3 separate regions of the Homo sapiens genome follow, and all the other regions are linked to region 1. Evidence: fine-mapped expression QTL. A gene starts in region 1. Each other region holds a variant in brackets. All regions are shown on one strand. Distances are between the middles of the regions.

Evidence for each region.
Region 2: its variant is fine-mapped to the expression of TPRG1L in whole blood (TOPMed, PIP above 0.99).
Region 3: its variant is fine-mapped to the expression of TPRG1L in whole blood (TOPMed, PIP 0.97).

What each region holds. Positions count from the first base shown.
Region 1 is chr1:3,620,121-3,628,301 of GRCh38, reverse strand. It overlaps TPRG1L (tumor protein p63 regulated 1 like), which reads right to left and starts at 3,287. Exons shown (of 5, transcript NM_182752.4): 1 at 3,029-3,287; 2 at 2,787-2,878; 3 at 2,413-2,589; 4 at 649-802. The coding sequence starts at 3,229. It also overlaps a transcript of MEGF6 not described here. RefSeq lists enhancers at 2,251-2,913, 3,894-4,013 and a silencer at 3,214-3,443.
Region 2 is chr1:3,673,828-3,682,008 of GRCh38, reverse strand. All of the region lies in intron 1 of TP73 (tumor protein p73), which reads right to left. Among named protein-coding and RNA genes, the nearest start is that of TP73-AS3, 9.0 kb to the right of the region's middle. RefSeq lists enhancers at 585-1,320, 8,081-8,181 and a silencer at 1,610-1,777. The variant G/C (reference allele first, on the strand shown) is at 4,366.
Region 3 is chr1:4,093,495-4,101,675 of GRCh38, reverse strand. No RefSeq gene overlaps it. Among named protein-coding and RNA genes, the nearest start is that of LINC02780, 120 kb to the right of the region's middle. The variant G/A (reference allele first, on the strand shown) is at 5,044.

The DNA.
Region 1 (8,181 bases):
TATCTCTTCGTCCCTTCACTTGAAAGGGCTGCCTCTGCCACATCCTGGGGGTCTCTCAACTCTCGTCCCCACGGAGCTCTCTAGGTGTGTGGAAATCTTGCCACCATGCTCTCCTGTGGCCAATGGCAGCCAGCACCTGCAGAACCCTTCCTGTATACAGGGCTGAGTGGCTTTGCCGTCACCCAACCTACCAGGTCAGTAACCAGGCCGAGGCACACAGCTGGGGAAGTGCAGGACCCCCGCCAGGCTCTGGGCTCTGGGCTCTGCTCTAACCCCAGCCCCGAGGCCTCCTCTCCTGGTGCGCATCCGCACTGGTCATCTGGCACGGCTGGGTCTGCTGCCACTCTCTGAAGCCCAGCTGGGGCCCTTCCCCACCCAGATCACCATCAGGAGGCCACATTATGGAGCTATGCTAACCAGCAGCCACTGGCCACATGCGGCTACTTTAACATAAATTAACCAGAATTTCTGACAACTTAGGGAATCAACTCTAAAATGAGAGCTTCCTCTCTCATTTCTAGCCACGTCTCAAGTGCTCGGCAGCTCCGCGTGGCCGCCGGACAGTGCAGACCTGAAGTGTCTCCGTGACTGCGGGGGGTGTTTCCATCACTGCGGGGGGCGCGGCTATTTATGTGCCTGTCTTCTTACCTGACACAGAGATGCTGTCTTCTCATCTGCGCCAGCCATCGGGTGTTCTGTGAAAGTGGCATAGGGCACGTTGGTAGACCAGGGATTCCATCTGTTTATGAAGGAAGGACGACTTTGCTTGTCCCACTGAATTCGAATCCCAAAACCTTCTCGCCTGAAAAGTCAGAAGAAATAGCCAGACTTAGCATGGCAGGCCACAGTGCTCTCATGGACAATCTGACAGTCTCATCAGTTAGGAGAATATGACAGCAAAAAGCACACGTTTACAGAAAAGACCTATGACATATCACAATGGAAAACGGCTTGTAGTTTTTATTTTTGTTTTTATTTATTTTTATTTTTTGAGATGGAGTTTTGCTCTTGTTGCCCAGGCTTGAGTGTAGTGGCCTGATGTTGGCTCGCTGCATCCTCCACCTCCTGGGTTCAAGCGATTCTCCCAACTCAGCCTCCGGAGTAGCTGGGATTACAGGCATGCACCACCACACCCAGCTAATTTTGTATTTTTAGTAGAGACAGGGTTTATCCATTTTGGTCAGGCTGGTCTCAAACTCCTGACCTCAGGTGATCCGCCCGCCTCAGCCTCCCAAGGTGCTGGGATTACAGGCGTGAGCCACCGTGCCTGGCCGGCCTGTGGTTTTTAGTAGTAACTTCAATCTCCACTAACAATTGCTTTAAATACTGTGGGTATAAATATGACAAATTAGGTATATTTTGGTTATTAAATGTATTATTTTGGTAATCTTTACATGATTAAAAATTAATAAACAGGAATACTGGCTGGGCACGGTGGCTGACATCTATAATCCCAGCGCTTTGGGAGGCCAAAATGGGCGGATCTCTTGAGCCCAGGAGTTTGAGAACAGCCTGGGCAACCTAGCAAAACCCCATCTCTACAAAAAATACAAAAATTAGCTGGGTGTGGTGGCGGGCACCTGTAGTCCTAGCTACTTGGGAGGCTGAGGTGAGAGGATCACTTAAGCCTAGGAGGTGGAGGATGCAGTGAACCAAGACTGCACCACTGGTGCCTGGGTGACAGAGTGGGACTCCGTCTCAAAAAAAAAAAAAAAAGGGAATAATTATAGATAGGCTAGCCAAATGAGTGAAAAGGAAGTGTAATCTTCCTTTTCCTTATGTCATATTAAATGTTTTAACCAAAAGGTAAAATTTTTATTTTAGCTTCCTGAATCCCCCATCCAAATCTCTCCATCAAAAACCCAAGTTCTACAGCTTAACTGACTGTAGTAATGTTTAGGTTCCTCACGTCAGAAAATTATCCTACAGCAAAAAGATCAACTCCTGAAAGCTGGTCATTAAATATTTCCAAATTTGTCTTTTAGTGGTATCTATAAATTACAACGGGACCCTCCATTTCTCTTTAAAAAATTAGCCAGAGCAAGACTTGATGTGTCATATGCAATCTGTCCCTGGCTGGAGAAAAATGCAGAGTTTGGACTTTTCCTGAAGAACATCCAAGTTCCTTTTTAACACGCTGGGCTCTACTTCAATGCATCCTGAACTCATGTAAGTCTTTTTACTACCAGCCTAATAGCTGCCTTCTGTGCCAGAATTCCTTTTAATGCACTCAATTGCCCAGAAGTCGCTTCTTTTTAAGGAACTTCCCATTGATATTTGGAGCTGGAGCCTTTGTGCTTATAATTAATGACAGAGAAGACACACCGCTTGGGGGGCTGATTTAAAAGGGCTGAATTGTAAGGTCCACTCTGGTGCTTAGGTCCAGTGATACTGGACTCTGAACAGGCTTACTTGTTGAGCGATTTAGGGGGAAACTGGAATTCTCCGTAGGAAATGGTGTCTACTGCGTTGAGCGCTATCCGCACCACCTGCTGGCACTGGAGACTGATGAAGTCGTATTTACAGATAAGCAGGGACTGCTCCGTGACCAGCACCAGCCGCTCCTTCTCATTGTTCCAGTGATCCACCCTGTAGGCAGAGGAGGGGCCTCAGTCCACACTGGACGCGGCTGTCTCGACTTAGCCAAGGCCAGCCCGCCTGGAAGGGCAGCAGGGGCGGCACGGGGCGCCTGAGCGTGGCACGAGCACCCCGGGAAGTCCTCGCAAGGTGCTGCGCGGCGGCTCGGGGCGAGTCCCCCCACCAAGGAGAGCGCAGCCCCGGCTTACTCGGTAAGCAGCCACACTCCCTGGATCTCGCCGTCCTCCACGGGCCGCACCACCACGCGGATCTCCTCCACTGCCTGCTCGATGCTGCCGGGCTGGGCGGGTTGCGGGGTGGGGGACGGGGGCAAAGATCACAGGTCACAGCTCGCTCCCTGCGGGACCGCCCGGCGCCCGCCTCCGACCCCACCCGCCCCCATCCCGCCCCGCGCCCTCGGCCCCCGCCCCGGCCCTGGCCCCTGCCTCACCCGGAACACGAAGTACTCCTTGACGCGGGCGCGGCGCGTGGGGTCGTGGATGCTGAGAGGCCAGAGTGTCTGGCGCAGCGGCGTCCCCGCCCCCGGCCGCCCCCCGCCCGGGCCGCCGCCTGCCCCCACCTCCTCGCCGGCCGCCAGCACCGCCGTGGGGCTCGTACCGGCCGAGTCCACCGAGTCCCGCAGTTGCAGCATTGCCGCACCCCTTACCGACCCCGACCCTGACGCCGACGCGACCGCCGTCGCCGCAGCCACCGCCACCACCCGGCCGCGCCCCCGGCCCCGCCCCGCGGACCGCCGCGATTGGCTCCGCCTTGCCGGCCCCGCCTCTGGCTCCGCCCCTTCCCGCGTCCGCCGACCCTCGGGATTGGCTCTCCTCCTGCCGTTTTCCGCGATTGGCTCTGCCCCGCCGCCGTTCACAATCGCTCCCGCCCCTCGCCGGGCCGGAAGCGACCGTCACGCGCAGGCTCACTTCCTGTTTACACAACGAGAAGGGGCGGGGCCGAAGCCGGTTGCCAGGGTGTCGCGGAGCGGCTGGGAAGGAGGGGCTGGGAATCTTGGAGCCCCTTGGCCCGCGGGGAAAGCGGGTGACCCGCCCTGCAAGTGGGATGCCCCCTTCGGCCTTCTGGAGCGCAGGTGGGGGCGCGCGCCCATCGGGGGCTCGCACTGCACGGAGGGTCGCGGTGCCGGGGAGCTGAGGTTGGAGGATGCAGGGCGGCGGCCCTGGTGCACCGTGGGGGAGTTCGCACGCCGGGCAGCGATCTTCTGCCGGGACCTGGCGTTCTTCACACACGGCTTATTCGTGACGGATCCACAGAGCAATGCACTCTGAAGCCGGAGGGTAGAAAGTGCTGGAATGCGCGCCCGGGCCCAGGCTGTCGCGAGCCTTCAGCAAGCCAGTGCACACAGAGAGGGCTGCCCAGAGATCCCGGTCAGCGCTCGCAGTTCGAGGTGGAACATGTGTGTGCCCTGCGCTAGCCCCAGCTCCCGGAGGTGCCCCCAGCGCGTGTGGAGGGGGGCGGTGAACGGACCCGCAATCTGGTGGAGGCTGCGGGAAGGAGGCGCAGAGTCCAGGGGTCAGGGTTACCTTCGGGCAGGAGGACAGATCCCTCTGCTCGGAGGTGAGGAAGACACACGAGGCGAGGTGCACACAGGCGAGGAGAGTGAGATGGGGGGAGAATGAGGAGTTCAGGATACATCTGTTTACTTCAGTCAGGGAGTGGGGATGGAGCGGAGTATTTGTAAAGATGGACGGTTTAGAATCGCCGGGATGAGAACCGGGCAGGGAGCTGATCAGGGAAGGGCATGGGGATCTCTGAGCAGCTGGGAGACCCCAGGGAAGTTTGCAGTGGCGCCTCCCACGCGGCAGCTGGGGGAGTGGAAGAAACCAATGCTGGCTGGTCTAGATGGAGGAGTTTGCTGGGTAGCGGTGGTCAAAGACCAGAGAGAAAAGGGAGGCCAAAATCCTAGAGGGAGTGTTGCCCAAGAATGGTGGAGTGCAGGGATTCTGCCCCACTTGCCAGCAGACAGGCCAGGCTGCCAAAGTTGCATGGGCGCTGGCAGAAAGACCCAATACCCCTGGAGTCAGAGAGGAAAGACTACAACAGGAAACGGGCGACGCTGGTGTGCCCAGACGCATGTTGCACCACAGCGGGTGCACTACAAAACAGGACCCTGGATCCTGTGGACCAATGTGGTCTTTGTCCCACAGGGAGGCTGTCTCCCCGGCAAGGGTGCCCACTGCAAGCACAGGCGTGAGAAATGGCCCAGAAAAGAGTGGTCAGGGCAATGTGTTCTTGGCACGCCCAGCAAGACCTGCCAGAGGGACCTACAGACGAGTGTCTCCCAGCTATCTTACCAGCGGGGACCTTGAGGTCCAAGTATCCAGTCCGGTTAGAAATGGCCGCGGATCCAACAGGTGCTGGTGAGTGGGAGAATACCCCTGAGGGAGGAAGAACAGAGGCCGGGAGGGAGCTGAGTGGATGTAGATGAGAAATACCTGGACAGCTGCAAGCTGTAGTCAGTGATGGGCAACTGGAACCAGAGATTCCAGAGAGAGGGAGGGAGAAAGAGGGAGGAGAAGGGAGAATGAGAAAGAGAGGGAGAGAGAATGGGGGGGAGAAAGAGGGAGAATGGGGGAGAGAGGTAGGAGCAAGTTCTGGACCACGCCAAGGATGGAGCTGTGGTCCTGGAACCAGATGTCCAGGGAATGGGATGAAGTGACACTGGCTGGGGCCGAGGCTGCAGACTGCTGGTGGGAGCTGGCAGGACAATGAGGATTCTGAACCAGGTGCCTGAGCCTTCTGTGGATATGGGGAGTGACTTGGATGTCTATAAATTCCAGAAATGATAGGAGGGATAGATGATGGAGGGACTGTATTTTAGACAATAAACAAATTTCACTCAGTATGGATGAGTTTCCTGGGGCTTCTGTCACAATGCATCACAAACTGGTTTTAAAAACAACAACTGTTTTAAAAACAACAGAAACGTGTTTCCTCATAGCCCTGGAGGCCAGAAGTGCAAAATCAAGGAGTGTGCAGGGCCATGCTCCCTCTGCAGCCCTGAGGGTTGACGCATGTCTTGCTCTGCCAGGCCTGCTTGGTGTCCTGGGCTTGCTCATGCACTGCTCCCATCCCTGCCTCCATCTTCACACGACCTTCTCCAGGTGGGTCTCTTCTGCAACATCCCTGTTGGATTAGGGACCACCCTAGTGACCTCATCTTTAGTCGATCATCATCATGTTTGATCAAATAAGGTCACTGTGTTTGTTTGTTTTCCCACTGCTATTAATATGAAGAACTTACCTGAAGCTGGGTAATTTATAAAGAAAAGAGGTTTCATTGACTCACAGTTACACATGACTGGGGAGACCTTAGGAAACTTACAATCATGGCGGAAGGCAAAGGGGAAGCAAGGCACGTCTTACATGGCGGCGGGGGTAGTGGGATGTGCCACACTTAAACCATCAGATCTTGTGAGAACTATGACAAGAACAGCACGGGGGAAATCGCCCCCATGCTCCAATCACCTCCCACCAGGTCCCTCCCTCGACATGTGGGGATTACAATTCGAGATGAGATTTGGGTGGGGACACAGCTAAACCATATCATTCTACCCCGGCCCCTCCTAAATCTCATGTCCTTTTTACATTTCAAAACCAATCATGCCCTCCCAACAGTCCCCCAAAGTCTTATTTCAGCATTAACTCAAAAGTCCACAGTCCAAAGTCTCATCTGAGACAAAGTCCCTTCTGCCTATGAACCTGTAAAATCAAAAACAAGTTAGTTACTTCCAAGGTATAATGGAGGTACTGGCACTCGGTAAATGGTCCCATTCCAAAAGGGAGAATTTGGCCAAAACAAAGGGGCTAAAAGCCCCATGCAAGTCCAAAATCTAGTGGGTTAGTCATTATATCTTACAGCTCCAAAATAATCTCCTTTGACTGCATGTCTCACATCCAGGGCCACACTGATGCAAGGGGTGGGCTTCCAAGGCCTTGGGAAGCTCTGCCCCTGAGTGCCTACGGCTTTTCCAGGTGCAGGGTGCAAGCTGCTGGTAGATCTACCATTCTGGGGTCTGGAGGACAGTGTCCCCCTTCTCGTAGCTCCACTAGTCAGTGCCTGTGGGCAGCAAGCCACCCCGGTGCTGAGGCAAGAGACCGAGGGCACGAGCTGTTCCGGTGTAATAAGATATATAAAATAACAAGAGTTATACTAGATCTAGATCATAGATATGATTATATGTAAATATCATTAATCATTAATTTGTAGTAATTGCTCTTTATTCCAATATTATAATAATCCTCGCTCTACAATCATAACCTAGAAAAAACCAGGCCGTACAGAGATGGGAGCTGAGGGGACATGGTGAGAAGTGACCAGAAGACAAGTGCGAGCCTTCTGTTATGCCCGGACAGGGCCACCAGAGGGCTCCTTGGTCTAGCGGTAACACCAGCGTCTGGGAAGACGCCTGTTACCAAGCGGACCGTGGTCTAGTGGCAGCGTCAGTGCCAAGGGAAAAGCACCCACTACTGAGCAGACCAGGAAAAGGAGTCTCCCTTTCCCCAGGGGAGTTTAGAGAAGACTCTACTCCTCCACCTCTTGTGGAGGGCCTGACATTAGTCAGGCTTGCCCACAGTTATCTGGAGGCCTGTCTCCCTGTGATGCTGTGCTTCAGTGGTCATGCTCCTGGTCCGCTTTCATGTTCCATCCTGTACACCTGGCTCTGCCTTTTAGATAGCAGGTGCAAAATTAGTGGAAGTACCAGAAGTCTCTGATATGCGGAAATAATGGCGTAAGCTGTCTCTCCTCTCTCTCTCCGCCTCAGCTGCCAAACGGGGAAGGGCCCCCTGTCCAGTGGACATGTGAACCACGTGACCTTACCTATCATTGGAGATGAGTCACACTCCTTACCCTGCCCCCTTGTCTTGTACCCAATAAATAACAGCGCAGCCAGGCATTCGGGGCTGCTACCGGTCTCCGCGCCTTGGTAATAGTGGTCCCCCAGGGCCCAGCTGTCTTTTCTTCTATCTCTTTCTCTTGTGTCTTTATTTCTACGATCTCTCATCTCTGCACATGGGGAGAAAGACCCACTGACCCTGTAGGGCTGGTCCCTACAAGTGCCCCAGTGGGGACTCCGTGTGTGGAGGCTCCCACCCCACATTTCCCCTCTGCATTGCCCTAGCAGAGGTTCTCCATGAGGGCTCTGCCCCTGCAGCAGACTTCAGCCTGGACTTCTAGGTGTTTCCATACATCCTCTGAAATCTAGGCAGAGTCTCCCGAAGTTCACCTCTTGTCTTCTGCACACCTACGGGCTCCGCCTGGGCTGTCCCTTGACCCCTTTTGGCCCTGACTGGAGCTGATTTTGCCCCCAAGGCCTCTGGGCCTGTGATGGGAGGGTCTGCCGTGAAGCTCTCTGAAATGTCTTGGAGACATTTCTACAGCTGATGGCTTGAATTTCTCCCCCAGACAATGGGTTTTCTACCACATAGTCAGGCTGCAAATTTTCCAAACTTTTATGTCCTGCTTTGCTTTTAAACATAAGTTCCAATTTCAGATCATCTCCTTGTGAACGCACATGACTGTACACTTTCAGAAAAAGCCAGCTCACATCTCAAATGCTTTGCCGCTTAGAAATTTCTTCTG
Region 2 (8,181 bases), 54 kb before region 1:
GGCTGCCTTGAGGGCCTTCAGGAGAGCAGACTCTTTGAGATGCTTGGGCCGGGACAAGCGTGTGAGGCCTGTGGTCTGTTATGATCCACTGTGTCTAGGTTTGGCCTGGGGGATGCTTGGGCCGGAACAAGTGTGTGAGGCCTGTGGTCTGTTACGATCCCCTGTGTCTGGGTTTGGCCTGGGGGATGCAGCCAGGTTTGGGGTCTCCCTGATGCCCGGGACCTGGAGGTGGCTCCGGTCCCGGTCACCCCATCTTGGGAACAGCGTGTGTGAGGGCTGCGCTGGAGGCTGCAGCCAAGCCCCCGGCTAGAGCCTAGCTGTGCCCACTGCTGCAGGACACAGACGCCCCCTCGCCTTCTGAGCTGGGGCTCCTTCCTGCACCCCAGGGCCACAGGGAAGCCTGGCAAGGCTGGGAACTTGAAGCTGCCCTGTCCTGCAGCCGGCCACTGCCTGGGTGGTCACGCCTTGAGAAGGAGACACCCAGGGATTGGAGAGCTCTGACCCCAGCGCCCGTCCGCTGGTCTTTGTCTCCACCATTGCTCCCCTGAGAACCCCTGGGCCCAGCTCCCAGTGGCCCTGGACACCCATGAGGAGGTGGCAGTGTCCAGGCAGAGCACAGCTGGGGGAGGGGACAGGGAAACCCGAGCCCACCCTGCCCACAGCCCCCAGCCCCGGCTGAGGTGACCTCTCCCCTGGGCCAGCCTCCCAGGTCCTCGGTGAGGTGCTATGGGACAGGCTTGGCCACCGCCCTGCAATGCTCAGGCAGGCAGGCCTGGACCTGCCCACGGCCAGCGGGGGTGCAGGCCATGGCCTGGAACCTGTCGTTTTTGTCCTTCCCCAGGCAGGCGGGAGCTGATAGAAGCCTGTGGCTGCCACGTGCCGGGCCCTGGAGAAGTGGCACAGGCCAGGCTGAGGGGCGGTCCGTGAGCCATGATGGCCTGGGACAAGCAGCTTAGAGGGTGCTGGCCCAAGCCACCTCTCCCAGGTGGGCGTGACCGCTCCATCCACTTTTCAGGAGCCCCAAGGCTCAGAGGGGTTAAGTGACTTGTGTGAGGTCACACGGCTGTAAGTGCTGGTGATGAATGCTCCAGGGGCTCTTAGAATTAGAAGTTAATTTGGTTGCCCTGCCCCACCCCACTTCACCATCACGTGGCCAGGTGGGTGTGCCCTTGCAGGCCTCCGATCCTGGGCTGGGCTAAAACCCCAGTGGAGCTGAGGGTGTGCATGGGGACCGCACCATTCCGTTAATTTAAAATGGGAGAGTGTGACAGGAAGCAGAACCGCAGGTCCAGCTGAGGCTGGCACAGGGCCCCGGGGGAGAGCAGAACCCGCCCTTGCCCATACCCCACGGTGGGTCCCTTTGGGCTGAGCAGTATGAGTAGGGTAGCCTCTTGGTGCAGGTATGTGGGCCAAGGCTGGGTGGGCACAAGTGAGGGGTCCCAGGCATGTTTCCTGAAGGGCAGGAGCACTGGAGGGGCTGGACTCGGAGGAAAGAAATTCCCTTAGATCCAAGAGGACAAGCCTGGGAAGGTTTTGCCGCCAGAGGCCTCTGGGTCGCATCCCCTTCATTTTGTAGATGGGCCACCTGAGTCCAGAGATGGAAATGGACTTGCCATCCACAGCAGGTGGATGACAAAATCCCAGCTCCCTTCACAGCAGCACCATTCCTGGTAGCTGAACGGTGCACATAGCCCAGACGCCCATCAGCAGAGGGCCGGGCACAGGAGATGTGGTGCCAGCAAGCAATGGAACATTACGCGGCCATGAAAAGGAACGAAGCTCTGACATGCTACAGCGTGGGTGAGACCTGAAAACCTCATGCTCAGGACACATGACCTCATCTGTCAGCCTGTGAGCTGTCCCCTCCCAAGGCTAAGGTGGGACAAAGACAGAGAGAGACAGAGACAGAGAGACAGAGAGAAACAAGGACAAAGAGAGACAGAGACATAGAGACAGGGATAGAGACAGGAAGAGAGAGACAGAGAGAGAGAGACAAGGACAAAGAAAGAGAAAGACAGGAAGAGAGACAGAGAGACAGGGACAAAGAGAGAGACAAAGAGAGACAGAAAGAGACAGGGAAAGAGATAGAGAGAGACAGGAAGAGAGACAGAGAGACGGAGAGAGACAAAGGCAGAGAGAGACAGGGACAAAGAGAGACAGAGAGATACAAGGACAAAGAGAGACAGAGACAGAGACAGAGAGACAGGGACAAAGAGAGACAAAACAGAGAGACAAGGACAAAGAGAGACGGAGAGAGACAAAGGCAGAGAGAGACAGGGACAAAGAGAGACGGAGAGAGACAAAGGCAGAGAGAGACAGGGACAAAGAGAGACAGAGAGATACAAGGACAAAGAGAGAGAGAGACAGAGACAGAGAGACAGGGACAAAGAGAGACAAAACAGAGAGACAAGGACAAAGAGAGACAGAGAGTGAGAGAGACAGAGACAGGGAGAGACAAGGACAAAGAGAGACAGAGAGATGGAGAGAGACAGAGACAGAGAGACAGGGAGAGAGACAGAGAGAGATGGAGAGAGACAGGGAGACAGAGACAGACAGAGACAGACAGAGAAACAGAGGGAAAGAGAGAGGGACAGGGAGACAGACAGCGTGGGAGCCGACGGCATCCCGCCGCACCCCTACTGGAGGTCCAGGGGTTCCGTGAACAGGTGTGCACGGGGCATCCCTCCGCGCAGGGCTCAGGGCTCACAGGAACTGGTCGGCAAAACATGATTTGTGATCTTATGCCTGGGACATGGGCGTTGGCTGTATTTTCAAGTCGGCATCCTGTGAACTCCCCCTGAAGCGACACCCTCTCTTCCCACTGAACCCTGAATGAGGAACAGCGACCCTTCTTGTCAGCGCGCCTCTGCCTGCCGGAGACCCAGCTTCCACATCCCCTGACCGGCACCCACTGTGCACTGCAGGACACCAGCTTGGCCTCTCATCCCTGCCTGGGCACAGGACAGAGGCCAGCGAGCGTGGTCGTGGGTCCCCGATCCCACCCGTCCGGCCCTCCAGGCTCACAGGACAGGCCACCACCAGGAGCATGTGGGGTGGGAAAGGGGCTTCCTCCACGCCAGGAGTTGGGTCCCCAAACATCCCCAGGCCTGTTTGCCTGAGATGTGGGCAGTGGGCCTCCAGGTGCAGGCGTGTGGACCAGCCGGAAGCCCTGGGCAGATGCATCTTCCAGGACACCCCTCCCCACAGTGGGGCTGGGGCAGGGCCCAGGAATCTGCCCCTTTAACAAGCCTCCAGGGGAGTCATGAAGAGCCTGGGACAGGCCCCCTGAGGAGGACACTGTCATGAGGGCCAGCCTTGCCACTGCTCGGGGCCCTGCTGCAGCCACCGGCCTCCCCCATGGGAATCGGGTTCCTCATTAGCCAAAACCAGGACCCGGAAACCTGCCCAGACTTAAAGCACACGGAGGAACTTGAACCGGAAGCCACGAGATGCCTGATTCCCAACTTCCTGGGAAAACGCCAACGCTGGTAGCATTGGTCCCAGGGCCCCACAGGAACACTGCTCACAGGCACAGGCGCCAGGCAGGGGCTCCCCCAACCGGCCTCACACACCTGAGCTGATGACTGGCTCCGCAGGCATCTGGGAGTACTGGGCATGAGGAACAGGAAGCTCTGTTGGGGGTGCAGGGACGCTGCGCTGGGGCAGGGGGAGTATGTGCCCTCTGCCCACAGCCGCCTTTCAGGCAAGGATCCCAGTGGCGAGAAAAATAAGTCAATTCTAATAAAATGGCCTTTCAATTAAATCCAATTTTCCCAACCATTTGCCTTTTAATTTGAAAATTCGTTCACAAGGGGATCACGGTTCTGGGACAAAACAGAAATTGCTTTTGAAACGTTGCCAATAGTTTTAAAAATCATGTGTATCAATGGGGAAAGGAGACCAATTTCATAAGACATCTTTAGGAAGTTTTATCAACATCATAAAATGCAAATACATTATTGGAAGTGTAGGTTTTTCTAAGAAGATTTAGTCTAGGAGGGATGGGCTGGGTGCAGTGGTTCATAACTGTAATCCCAACACTTTAGGAGGCCAAGGAGGGAGGATTACTTGAGCCCAAGGGCTTGAGACCAGCCTGGGCAACACAGGGAGACCTCAGCTCTCCAAAAACTTAAAAAAATATTAGCTGGGCATGAGGGCGTGATGGCATGTGCCTGCAGTCCAAACCACGCAGGGTGCTGAGGTGGGAGAATCACTTGAGCCCAGGGGCTCGAGGCTGCAGTGAGCCATGATTGCACCACTGCACTCCAGTCTGGGCAACAGAGCTAGACCACAACTCTAAAAAAAAAAAAAAAAAAAAGGGAAGGAAGGAAATGAAATAAATGAGTTCTCAGTTGTAACAGGGGC[G/C]TCCAGTGTGTATTACCACAGGTCTTGCAGTGGAAGGCTTTGTGTGGCCACAGCATTTGGGGGTGGTCATTGGGGAGCTGCTGGCCGGCACCCCCCCAGCCCTGGCACCATCAAGTCAGGGCACAGAGTTGCAAAGGACAGTTGTGCTGGGTGTTCCTGGTTACGCTGTAGCCAGGCTGTAGGCTGCTGGCACACCCAGGAAGCAGGGCACCTCGACCCTGCCCCAACTTCCATGAGGCCTCAGACAAGTCCCCTCCCTTTGCCAGGCTGGAAAGGTGACCAGCGTTCCAAGTCCTACAGTGCCCACAGCAGTGGGAGCAGGACAAAGACCAGCCACCGAGGGCCCTCCGGCAAACCCAGACCTCAGCCTGCTTGGATCCTCAACTCCAGGGGCCGCTGTACCAGCTGCACCACAGGGAGAGCCCCCACACACGTGTGACTCAGAACAGGAAAGGAACTCACACCAGCAATTAGGCCCCCACAGCTTCCCCGGGACCCACGGAGCACAGGTGGGCTGGGGAGGGGACTGTGTGGCCCAGAAAACCAGCCTGCCCAAGCTCCCTGGAGCTGAAAACAAGGCTCTCTGATGACTTCTCGGTTTGACTCAGGGCCTTCTGAGGTCTCAGCCTAGGGGTTCTCACCAGGGGCAGTTCCACCCCCAGAGGATATTCCCATGTGGGGACATTTTCCACGGGGTCAGAGGGTGCTGTGGAATCTAGTGTGCAAGACAGGGATGCTGCTTAGCACCCTACGTTGCTCAGGGCAGCTGCCCACAGCAGAACGCACGCCCAGCTGTCGGGGCCGTGGCGGAGAGGGGGTGCTGTGCCATGGCTCCGAGCTGAGGCTGGCCAGGCACTTTGCAGGGCCTCAGGCTCACACGCCAACCCTGCCCCAGTTCAGAGATGAGCAAGTGGAGGCCAGGAGGCCCAGTGGCTGGCCCAAAGCTACTGAGGGCTGAGGAGCTGGGACTCCAGCCAAGCCCAGGTCCTCTGATGGCCTGGCCGCACCCGAATGCTCCCCTCTGCCCTGTGGGGAGGAGTCCGCAGCCGGTGAGGGGCTCTCAGCCTCTCTCATCTCACCCTGCCCAACCCCTCTGGCCTCGTCTTCCATAGCTTCCCACGAAAGCCACAGCCCCCTGTCCCCCTGCCCTGTCCCAAGCATTCCCTCCCTGTCCCCAAGCATCCCCTCCCTGTCCCCTGTTCCTCTGTCCTCTCCCTGTCCCCCTGTCTCCCTGTCCCCCATAGGTTCCTTCCCTGTCCCCTTTCCCTTTGTCCCCTAGCCCCCCATCTTCTATCCCCTCCCTGTCTGCATCCCTCTGTCCCCTCCCCATCTCCTGTTTCTCTGTCCCCTCCCTGTCCCTTGTCCCCATAGATCCCTGCCCTATCCCCATGGGTCCCCTCCCTGTTCCCTGTCCCTTTGACCTCTCCTTCTCCCATCCTCTGTCCCCGTCCTAGCTCCTGTTTCTGTGTCCCCTCCCTGTCCCCGTCCTCCTGTCCCCTCCTTGTCCCCCATCCTCTGTCCCTCCCCGTCTCCTGTCCCTCTGTCCTCTCCCTATCTCTTGTCCCCATGGGTGCCCTCCTTGTCCCCTGTCCCCAGTCCCCACATGCCTGGCTATGTGCTCTCTGTGTTCAGCCTTTGTCTACCACCCCCTTCCTGCCCTCCCATCTCATCCCTATCTCTCCAGGCCAGGCCAGGACCCAGCCTCCTCTAGGAACCCCGTCTCCGGCTGACGCCCCATCCTCTCCCCTCACCACCTGACAGGAGGTGGGAGACCAGACATTTCCTTGGCCATGGGCCCACAGGTAAGGCCTCGTCAGTTCCCCAACCCCTTCCACCTCTGCCCAGGCCTGGGGCAGACAGGGCTCCACAACCACCTTTGATAAGCCAGGACACTCCACCCCGACTGAGCCCACTCTGGAAGAGGCACTCCCCATGGGGACACCCACTCCCACCTGCAGGGGCCCTGGCCGCAGGGCTGCTGTTACCTACCCACCCCTCGGTGGAGCTCTGAGACCGAGCCGTCCGCACTCAGCCTGGGCAGGAGACACAGGCCCCTCTGCCCCGTCTGGCCCAGCCATCCCGGACACTGGCTCTTAAGGGGGATCACAGGAGGGGTGCAGGGTGTCCTCCTCCATTCAGGGAGGAGGGAAAAGCCCCCAGGAACTCCACCCGCCCCGGGCCACCCCTAAAGCAAACATCTCAATGCACTTCTGATTCCGGTGGTTCCCAAACCACCAATGATTTTACCTGTTATTTCAGCAGATCAACGATTCCAATCTGAAGTGGCAAAGAAACCTGGGGCCATTGTGGGAGGAGACACCTGGGCCATTGTGGGAGGAGACACCTGGGCCATTGTGGGAGGAGACACCTGGGCCATTGTGGGAGGAGACACCTGGGCCATTGTGGGAGGAGACACCTGGGCCATTGTGGGAGGAGACACCTGGGCCATTGTGGGAGGAGACACCTGGGCCATTGTGGGAGGAGACACCTGGGCCATTGTGGGAGGAGACACCTGGGCCATTGTGGGAGGAGACACCTGGGCCATTGTGGGAGGAGACACCTGGGCCATTGTGGGAGGAGACACCTGGGCCATTGTGGGAGGAGACACCTGGGCCATTGTGGGAGGAGACACCTGGGCCATTGTGGGAGGAGACCGTCTCAATCCCCTTGTGCCCTTTTCCCAGGGACTCAGGCAGGTCCCAGGACCCAGAACCCAGAAGAGCCCCCGCCTGGGCAGAGGGGTCGGGCGGTCAGCGCACCAGAATGAAGCCAGGCAGGCTGGCCCTGTGTGAGACAGCGGCTCTCCCAGGCAGCAGCCCAGCGGAATTCCTGCAGGGCGTCATCAGAGCCCAGCCTCCTGGGGCCCTCTGTGCCAAGGGGCCTCACTCTCCCCTCCAGCCACCGCAAGAAGAGGGGCCGCTCTCGCTTGGCAGGCTGGGGCCAAGGACAGGGGTCCCCCGGAGTGAGGGCCAGGAGGGCCTCCCTCTCAGGGGCAAGGCCCTCTGCCAGCATTGCCTGCCCCTCCCGACAGAGGCTAAGGACCATGTGGCCTCCCTCTGTGGGTACGATGGGGCCAGGTCCTTCAGACAGGGTTGCCAGGACGGCTTCGTCAGCAGGTCAGGGGCAGGGACGAAGGCCTGTCCGCAGGGCCTGGTGAGGAGGATGCGGCTGAGAGCCCCCCTCACCGCCACAGATGGCACGCCTGCTGCCCCACTCCCCTAGTTTGGGGAAGCCCAGCATGGGGATGAAAGACAAACACAGCCTCCCACGGTGGGGTAGCGTGCACCGTGTGAAATATGCGGACAGCTGGAGGTGCCTGAGCAAGCTGCCCTCTCTCTCCTGGGCCGTGGCCCACGGGAAGCGGGAGGGGAGGGGAGGCAGATGCCCAGGACAGTCTGGGGGAATCCCTGAGCCTCACCCCAGAAGCTTTGAGGCCATGACCAAACCAAAATGCCCGACCCCCCGTGGGTGGGGGTGCCCCCAACCAGCTTCCTGGGTCAGTTCACACTCAGCCAAGTGAAATGTAGAAACACCAAAGCATGGCTAATTCCCGGGGATTCCAGCCACCCCACGACGGCCCAGTGAGGCCACACACCTGTTACCAACCAGGAGACATGCACAGAGAGGGAAGACCAGCCCTCCATGGGCACACAGCTGGTCAGGGTGGAGGTCGAACCCAGCAGCCTGGCTCTACCCTGGCCTGACCTGGAGCTGAGCAAGGGAGGCACGGGCCCGGCTGCAATCCCCTCCCCAGTCCGTGTTCCCACCGCACAGCCACACCCCGCACCCTGCCTGGGAAGCCCCTCTCTGGAAATC
Region 3 (8,181 bases), 470 kb before region 1:
CCACACCATGGGGAAAATGCAGGAAGCCCTTGGAGGCTGTCAGGCAAATGGGAAGATGAATCTCACACTTAGAAAAGACTGGCATCAGCCCCCACACTTCTGAGACGCCTTGAGCCTTTCAGGAAAAATGCATGAAGAATCAGCTCAGTAAGGTGCGTGGGGGCTTGGGGGAGGTACAGACCCACAGGATGTAGTTCCTGGTGGAGGATATTTTCTAGCAGAGATTTAGATGCTGTACCGTATAAGGGGCAGCCAAGATAGAGTGACAGGGGTCAGGTTACACCCTGGCTGAAACAACCTGACAGAGTATATGAAGCAACAGTTTTCAATACATTGGACATCAGGCAGTGAAGGACAGTGGTCCCTGAGAAATGAGAAACACAAGAGTGTAAGCCCAAGCTCACCACCTGGACAGAGTTTCCAGGCAGCAGCAGGGGAGGGGGATGCAGGCAGATCCCGCAGCCTCTGAGTTGAGGAGACTCTGCTAAAAAGTCCAGGAAGGCAGAGGCGGCTGCATCAGAGTGCCAGAGACAAGAGAGAAAGCAGAGACCTGCAGATTGGCTGAGGTCTCCCTAACATCTCGTATTGAGTACTTGCCAATGGATGCCAGTGAGAGAATGACTTGAGGCCAGGGAAAAATACCCTGAAAGAATTAGAGGGGAACAATTCTAGAGCTCCAACCAGATCAAGAATAATGCCTGCTCCCACAAGCCAGCGTGGGAAACCTCATAATTGATGAGCCATAGGGGAGAACACTCAGAGGTCCTATGCCTTGGTTATGCCTTGGTATTGGGGCAAAATAGTCCTCAATGAAACACTACCCTGAGCCCGCGTACGAAAGCTTGAAAGCAAGACCAAATAGATCAAACTGTTTCCAAGTAACACAACCATATCCTGGAAAAAAGCACAAGAGTATTTATAGGAACACAAAAATATACAGCATGCAATAAGGCAAAATTCAAGTGTGTGGCATGCAATCAAAACTTATCAGACATGCAAAGAAGCAGGAAAATATTACCCAGAGATAGCACAGATTATAGAATTAGTAGATGAAAACATTAAAAGTTGCTATAACATTATCTCGTGTGTTCAAGAAGCTAGAGGAAAGAGACTGAACACAGTCTCAGTATATACAGATACAGAAGGAAAAATACCAATTCAGACTTATAGAGATGAAAACTACAATATCAGTTCTGAAAAACTGCACTGGATGAGATCAATAGCATAATATATATAATACATATATTATATTTATATATTATATATTATATATATTATAAGTATATATAATATATAATTATAATTGTATATATATAATATATATAATTATAATATAATATATAGTTATAATATATTAAATATATTATATATTATATATTAATAAATATATAACAAATAATTAATAAATATATTAAATATATATTATATATTATATATTATATTATATATTATATATATTATATTATATATTATATATATTATATTATAATATATTATATATATTATATATTATATTATATATTATATATATTATATATTATATTATATATTATATATATTATATATTATATATTATATTATATATTATATATATTATATTATATATTATATATATTATATTATAATATATTATATATATTATATATTATATATAATATATATATTATATTATATATTATATATATTATATATATTATATATAATATATATAATATATATATTATATATAATATATATATTATATATAATATATTAATTATAATATATATATTATATAAAATATATATAATTATAATATATATTTTATATAATTATATATAATATATATAATTATAATATATATATTATATATATTATAATTATATATATATATAAATTTCAGGGCATAGAAATATAAGTCACCCATAATGTCATGGAAAGGGGGCTGAAAATAATATACAAAGTATCAATGGACCATGAGACAATTTCAATAGCCTAATATGGATGCAATTGTGGGTCTTACTTTTATAAGAGGGAGGGTGGATAGTAAACATGTAAAGGAATACTGGCCTAATATTATTCAAATTTGATGAAAACTGCCAAGAAGCTCAATGAACCCCAGGTACAAGTATATTAGTCCATTCTCACACTGCTATGAAGAAATACCCGAGACCGGGTAATTTATAAAGAAAAGAGGTTTAACTGACTCACAGTTCTGCATGGCTAGGGAGGCCTCAGGAAACTTACGATCATGATGGAAGTCACCTCTTCACAGGGTGGCAGGAGAAAGAATGAGTGCCAGCAGGGGAAATGCCAGATGCTTATAAAACTATCAGATTCCATGAGAACTCACTCACTGTCACGAGAACAGCATGGGGGAAACCACCTCCGTGATTCAATTACCTCCCACCAGGTCCCTCCCAGGACACATGGGAATTATGGGAATTACAATTCAAGCTAAGATTTGGGTGGGGACACAGTCAAACCATATCAACAAGCAACATGACAAAAAATGACACCAAGGGATATCATAACCAAACCGCAACCAGAGAAAACGACAAATTATGTATAGAAATCATAAAAAAATTATTTGTATAATTTTTATACAAGTCATGTACAAATCTTTTGTACAGATTATGTACATGTCATGTACAAATTAAAAATTTAAAAGCAAGAGTTCACCAGCAATATGAAACCTACAAGAAACTCATTTCAAGTATAAAGACACAAATAAGTTATAATTAAATGGATGCAAAAAAATATACTAACCATGAGAAAGCTGGGGCGGCTATACAAATATCCGACAAGTAGATTTTAGAGCAAAGAATACTAAAATAAGGATAAAGACAGTAATTTCATCACAATCAAGAGGTCAGTTCCTCAAAGTGACATAACAACCCTAAACATCCATATACCTAATTAACAAGCTTCAGAATCCCTGAAGCAAAAACTTAAGGAGCTGCAAGGAGAGAGATAAATGGCAATTATAGTCAACACCCCTTTCTCAATAATTGGTGGAACAAGTAGACAGAAAATCCATGAGGATATAGAGTAACACTATCACCTGGGTTGATCTACTTAGCATTTAAAAGGCACTCCACCCAACAGCACCACGCATGCTCTTTTCAAGTGCGCATGGAAAATTTGCCGACATAGACCATAGTCTCATTTATAAAACAAGTTTCAATGGATTTCAAAAGATACGAGCTGTGGTGCGATAGAGTTTGGATGTGGCCCCCTCTAAATCTCATGCTGAAATGTCATCCCTAATGTTGGAGATGGGGCCCGATGGGAGGTGATTGGATCATGGGGCAGATCCCTCATGAAGGGCTTGGTGCCATCCCTTTGGTGATGAATGAGTTCTCCCTTAGTGAGTTCACCTGAGATCTGGTTGTTTAAGTGTGTGGCACCTCCCTCCTCTCTCTTACTCCCACATTCCCCACATGCGATGTCAGCTCCCCTTTGCCTTCCACTATTATTGTAAGCAGCCCAAGGCCTCACTAGCAGCTGAGCAGATGCTGGCACCATGCTCCATGTACAGCCCACAAAGCTGTTAGCCAATCAAACCTCTTTTCTTTATGAATGATTCAGTCTCATGTACTTCTTTATAGCAATACAAGAATAGCCTAATACATGGTGTTATGATATGTATTGGCTATTGTCCATGGTTCTTGGCTCATAACTCCCATAGCTCTTTTTTTTATTATTATTATTTTATTTTTTTGAGACAGAGTCTCACTGTTTCCCAGGCTGGAGTGCAGTAGCACGATCTCGGCTCACTGCAACTTCCGCCTTCTGAGTTCAAGCCATTCTCCTGCCTCAGCCTCCCAAGTAGCTGGGATTACAGATGTGCACCACCATGCCTGCCTAATTTTTGTACTTTTAGTACAGACAGGGTTTCACCACGGTTGGCCGTACTGGTCTCGAACTCCTGACCTCAGGTGATCTGCCCACCTAGGCCTCCCAAAGTGCTGGCATTACGGCAGTGAGCCACGGCGCCTGGCCCCATAACTCTTGTCTTTTACCATAAAGCTGGGTGTGTCAGGGCCTCAGGGGTAGGCCTCAGGAAAGAAAAAGTCTGTGATCTTCTCCTGCCCTCGTTTCACCTGCCCCAAGGCACGACTCTAATATTCCCCCACCTTTCTGATTGTGGGTATTAAGACTCTCCCCAAAAAGGGTCCCACCTTATCCCTGGGGAAGAAGTGCTAACTACATGAAGCTTCCATAAAAACCCAAGAGGACTAGGGTGCAGGAGCTTCCGGAGAGTTGAATACTTGGAGGCCAACAGGAAGGTGAAGAACTCATTCATGTGTCCAGAGGGTGGTGTGCCCCAACTCCAGGGGCAGAAGCTCCCATGCTCAAGACCCCTCCAGACCTTGCCCTGTGTATCTCTTCATCTGGCTATTAATTTATATCCTTTAAAATATCCTTCTTAATAAACCAGTAAGCACAAGTGTTTCTCTGCATTCTGTGAGCAGCTCTAGCAAATCAATCAAATCCAAAGAAGGGTTTGTGAGAACCCCAGCTTGAAGCCAGGTGGTCAGAACTTCCAGAGGCCTAGACTTGCTACTGTGGGTGGGGAGGGGACTGTCCTGTGGGATGGATCCCTCACCCTGTGGGATCTGGTGCTATCTCCGGGTAGACAGTGTCAGAACTGAATTGGAGGACACCCAGCTGGTGTCTGCTGCTTGATGCATGGAGAAAACCCACACACATTTGGTCACAGAAGTCTCTTCTGTGTTGACGGTTGTTGTGGTGTGAGAGTAGAGGAAAAGCACCATTTGAAAGAGCTTTTCCCTACACACAAGTTGTATAAAGTACATTCATTCTCCGACTACAGTGGAATTCAGCTAGAAATCAATAAGAGAAAAAATATCAAGAAAACTCACAAATACGTGGACATCAAATAATATACTTCAAAAGTGCCCATGGGTTGAAGAAAAAAATCAAAAGAAAAACTGGAAATTGGTAATAAAAATTAAACATAACTTATCTAAATTGTGGGATGCAACCAAAGCAGTAATTGGAGGAAAATTGATAGCACTGAAATACCTACTTTAGAGA[G/A]AAGAAAGACCTTTAATCTTTGACATCAGCTTCCCCCTTAAGAAATCAGCAAAAGAATAGCAAATTAGACCCTAAGTAACTAAAAGAAAATAATAATGACCAGAGTAGAAATCAATGAAATGAGAAGCAGAAAAACAATAGAAATTGATGAGATTAGAAGCTAGGGTCTTTGAGCAGGTAAACAAAATTTTGAAACTTCTAGTCAGACTGTTCACATAAAATATAGATAAGACATAAATTACCAATATTAGCAATAAAAGAGGTGACACCAAGACAGAATCTACAGAGGGTTACATAAATGTCAGCTACTACTACCCTGTGGGCTCTTCACTCAGGGACCTCAAGAGTCCAGTTATCAGGTACGGTGTCCAATGCACCCCCATTCCCACCCACCCTGTACCTGGCCCATCAACCTACGGGCAGCAAGGCTCAGCCTGCTGGAGGAATGTGTGAATGGCCGCAGCTGGTCCCAGGATTCCAGGGTGATGGAACTGCTGCCTCACATTCTTTGTGCCGACCTCTTGGCCACCCTGAGCTCCCTTTCTTCTCCCAGGGGATTCTGCCCCAGTACAACGTTGATTTGGTTCTGTTTGCCTGGTGACTTGATTTTGCATTTGCTCTCGGGCTTCTCAGGTTCTCCTAATAAATCTAAGTGGGCGAAAGTGTTGCCCATGGTTACCACCTGAGAGTGTCAGGAGTTGGTACCAAGATGGCACAGTCCCATTCCTCTGAGGAGGCAGGTGTGGAAAGGAGGGTTACTGGCTTGGGACCCGAGGGAGTGTCCACCTCTGGGAAATGTCCTTTCCTGGGGAAGCAGCAGCTTTGCCTCACACTGAGCTCATTGGTTCCTCTGGGAACAGTGACCCCTCTGGCCTGTGATTAGACCCACACTATTTCTCTAATGTTTTATTTACAGACATCTAAGTGTGAAATTCTGATAAATAAAAGATGATGTCATCCCAGCCAATCCCCAGTTGTCTCACCAATCAGCCTCTCAAGAAGCAAAGTATGACACACACATTTCACCCACTCTCAGCATCACCGAACTCGTGTTCCAAGTCAGGGCAGGGAGGGGGCTGGCAGGGAAAAAGCTTCCGGCATAGTAGCATCAATTTTTCAGCTACAGAGACAGAAAAAATATTCTTAAGGAAATGTTTATGTGCCTCATCGTATTCATTGTTCTATGTGGTCTAACCAATTACCAGAAATTTAGCAGCTGAAAGCATCACGCAGGCCGGGCGCGGTGGCTCACGCCTGTAATCCCAACACTTTGGGAGGCCGAGGCGGGTGGATCATGAGGTCAGGAGATCGAGACCATCCTGGCTAACAAGGTGAAACCCCGTCTCTACTAAAAATACAAAAAATTAGCCGGGCGCGGTGGCAGGCGCCTGTAGTCCCAGCTACTCGGGAGGCTGAGGCAGGAGAATGGCGTGAACCCGGGAAGCGGAGCTTGCAGTGAGCCGAGATTGCGCCACTGCAGTCCGCAGTCCGGCCTGGGCGACAGAGCGAGACTCCGTCTCAAAAAAAAAAAAAAAAGCATCACGCATTTACTGTCTCACAGTTTCCATAGGTCAGAATTCTGGGAGGTCCTCTGCCCAGGGACGCGGACTGCTCCTCTGACAGCCTCTGCACATGCTCAGCTCATAGAGGCAGGATGTCAGGGGGCCAGTGCCTCTCTACAAAGTATCACACACTGAGTGTCTTAAAACAACAAGAATTTCCTCTCTTACAGTTCTGGAGGCCAGAAGTCCACAATCCAAGTGTGTACAGGGCTGGTTCCTTCTGAGGCTGGGAGGGAGAATCTGCCCCAGCCTCATCCAGCTGCTGGTGGTTTGCTGAAATGTCCCATGTTCCTTGGTTTGAGGCAACGGCACCTGGTCTCCGCCCCATAGTCATGTGGCCTTCTCCCTGTGTGTTTCTAGATCTTTTCTTCTTCTAAGGACTCCAGTCATTGGATTAGGGCTCCCCCTAATCAGTATGACTGCACCTTAACCAGTTACATCTGCAAAGACCCAATCCCCAAATAAGCTCATACTCTATGGTTCCAGGCAGATGAGAATGTTGTGGGGTCATTATTTGACCCACTAAAGTCACTGTCAGCCTGACAACAAATGGGTGGATACAGTGAAGGCCAGAGGGGCTGGAGAAGGAGCAGGTGAAGCTGGGCTGGGCTTCGTGTCTGTGCCCCGAGTGTTCCCTGGCCTCACCTCCCACCCCCACGGCCTGCGGTGGCTGAGAGACACCAGTGTCCACCCTGGCCGGGGGCTCTTTCCCTAACAGCCCAGCAGGTGTGTGTTCAGGTGCCTTGGTCCACTGAGCCAGCTTCTCTGCAGTCCCTGCCCCCACCTCGGTGAAGAAATCCATGAGGATGCCCTGTCTTCATTTCTGGGGCAGCCTGCACCCCATCTTCCCTTGACTTCCAGTGCCCAGTGCCTGGAAGGTTCTCAAGAAATATTTGCTGAACAAATAATGAATAAGTAAATGGATAATCTCCCTCCCAGTGAGAGGCCAGACCCCACCTTGGCCCCACCTACCCATGCCCCACCTTTAGCCCACCCCAGATCCTAGGGTTCCCACCCACTTACCCCTCCCAAACCCTTCCAGTCCCCTGCAGCTCCCTGCCTCCCCACACCCAAGACCTGCAGTCTCTCCCTCGGGACCACTGATCAAACAGAGAAGGAAGGTGGGTGCTGGAAAGAAGAAGGAGGAGGGGAGAGACATTTCATGATTGACACAGGAGTGTGAAGTCCCTGGTTTGCACCCTGGCAAATACAGGGAAGGTACAAGAGAGGTTGGGTGGATGGAACTTCTGTCCCAATCAAATCCCATGCCTGGAGGACTCCTCAGTATCCTACTTATTTCTCACCACAATCCCAGGAAGCTGGGGCCCAATCACTCTCGTTTCACAGATGAGGAAACTGAGGTCAGCAGCTGTTGAGTAGCTGCATCAGGATCTGCATCCCACATCCAGCCCCTGAGACACTGCTGAAAGAGAGGGGCATGGAATGCGTGGGAAGGAGGCCCTTCTACAGGGAGTCAGGGAAGAGTCCAGCAGCAGAACTGGCTGTGGAAAATGAACAGGGTTGACTCGTGGGAAGGACCATCTTCCCATGTTTTCATCCTTTCTCTGCAGCCTGA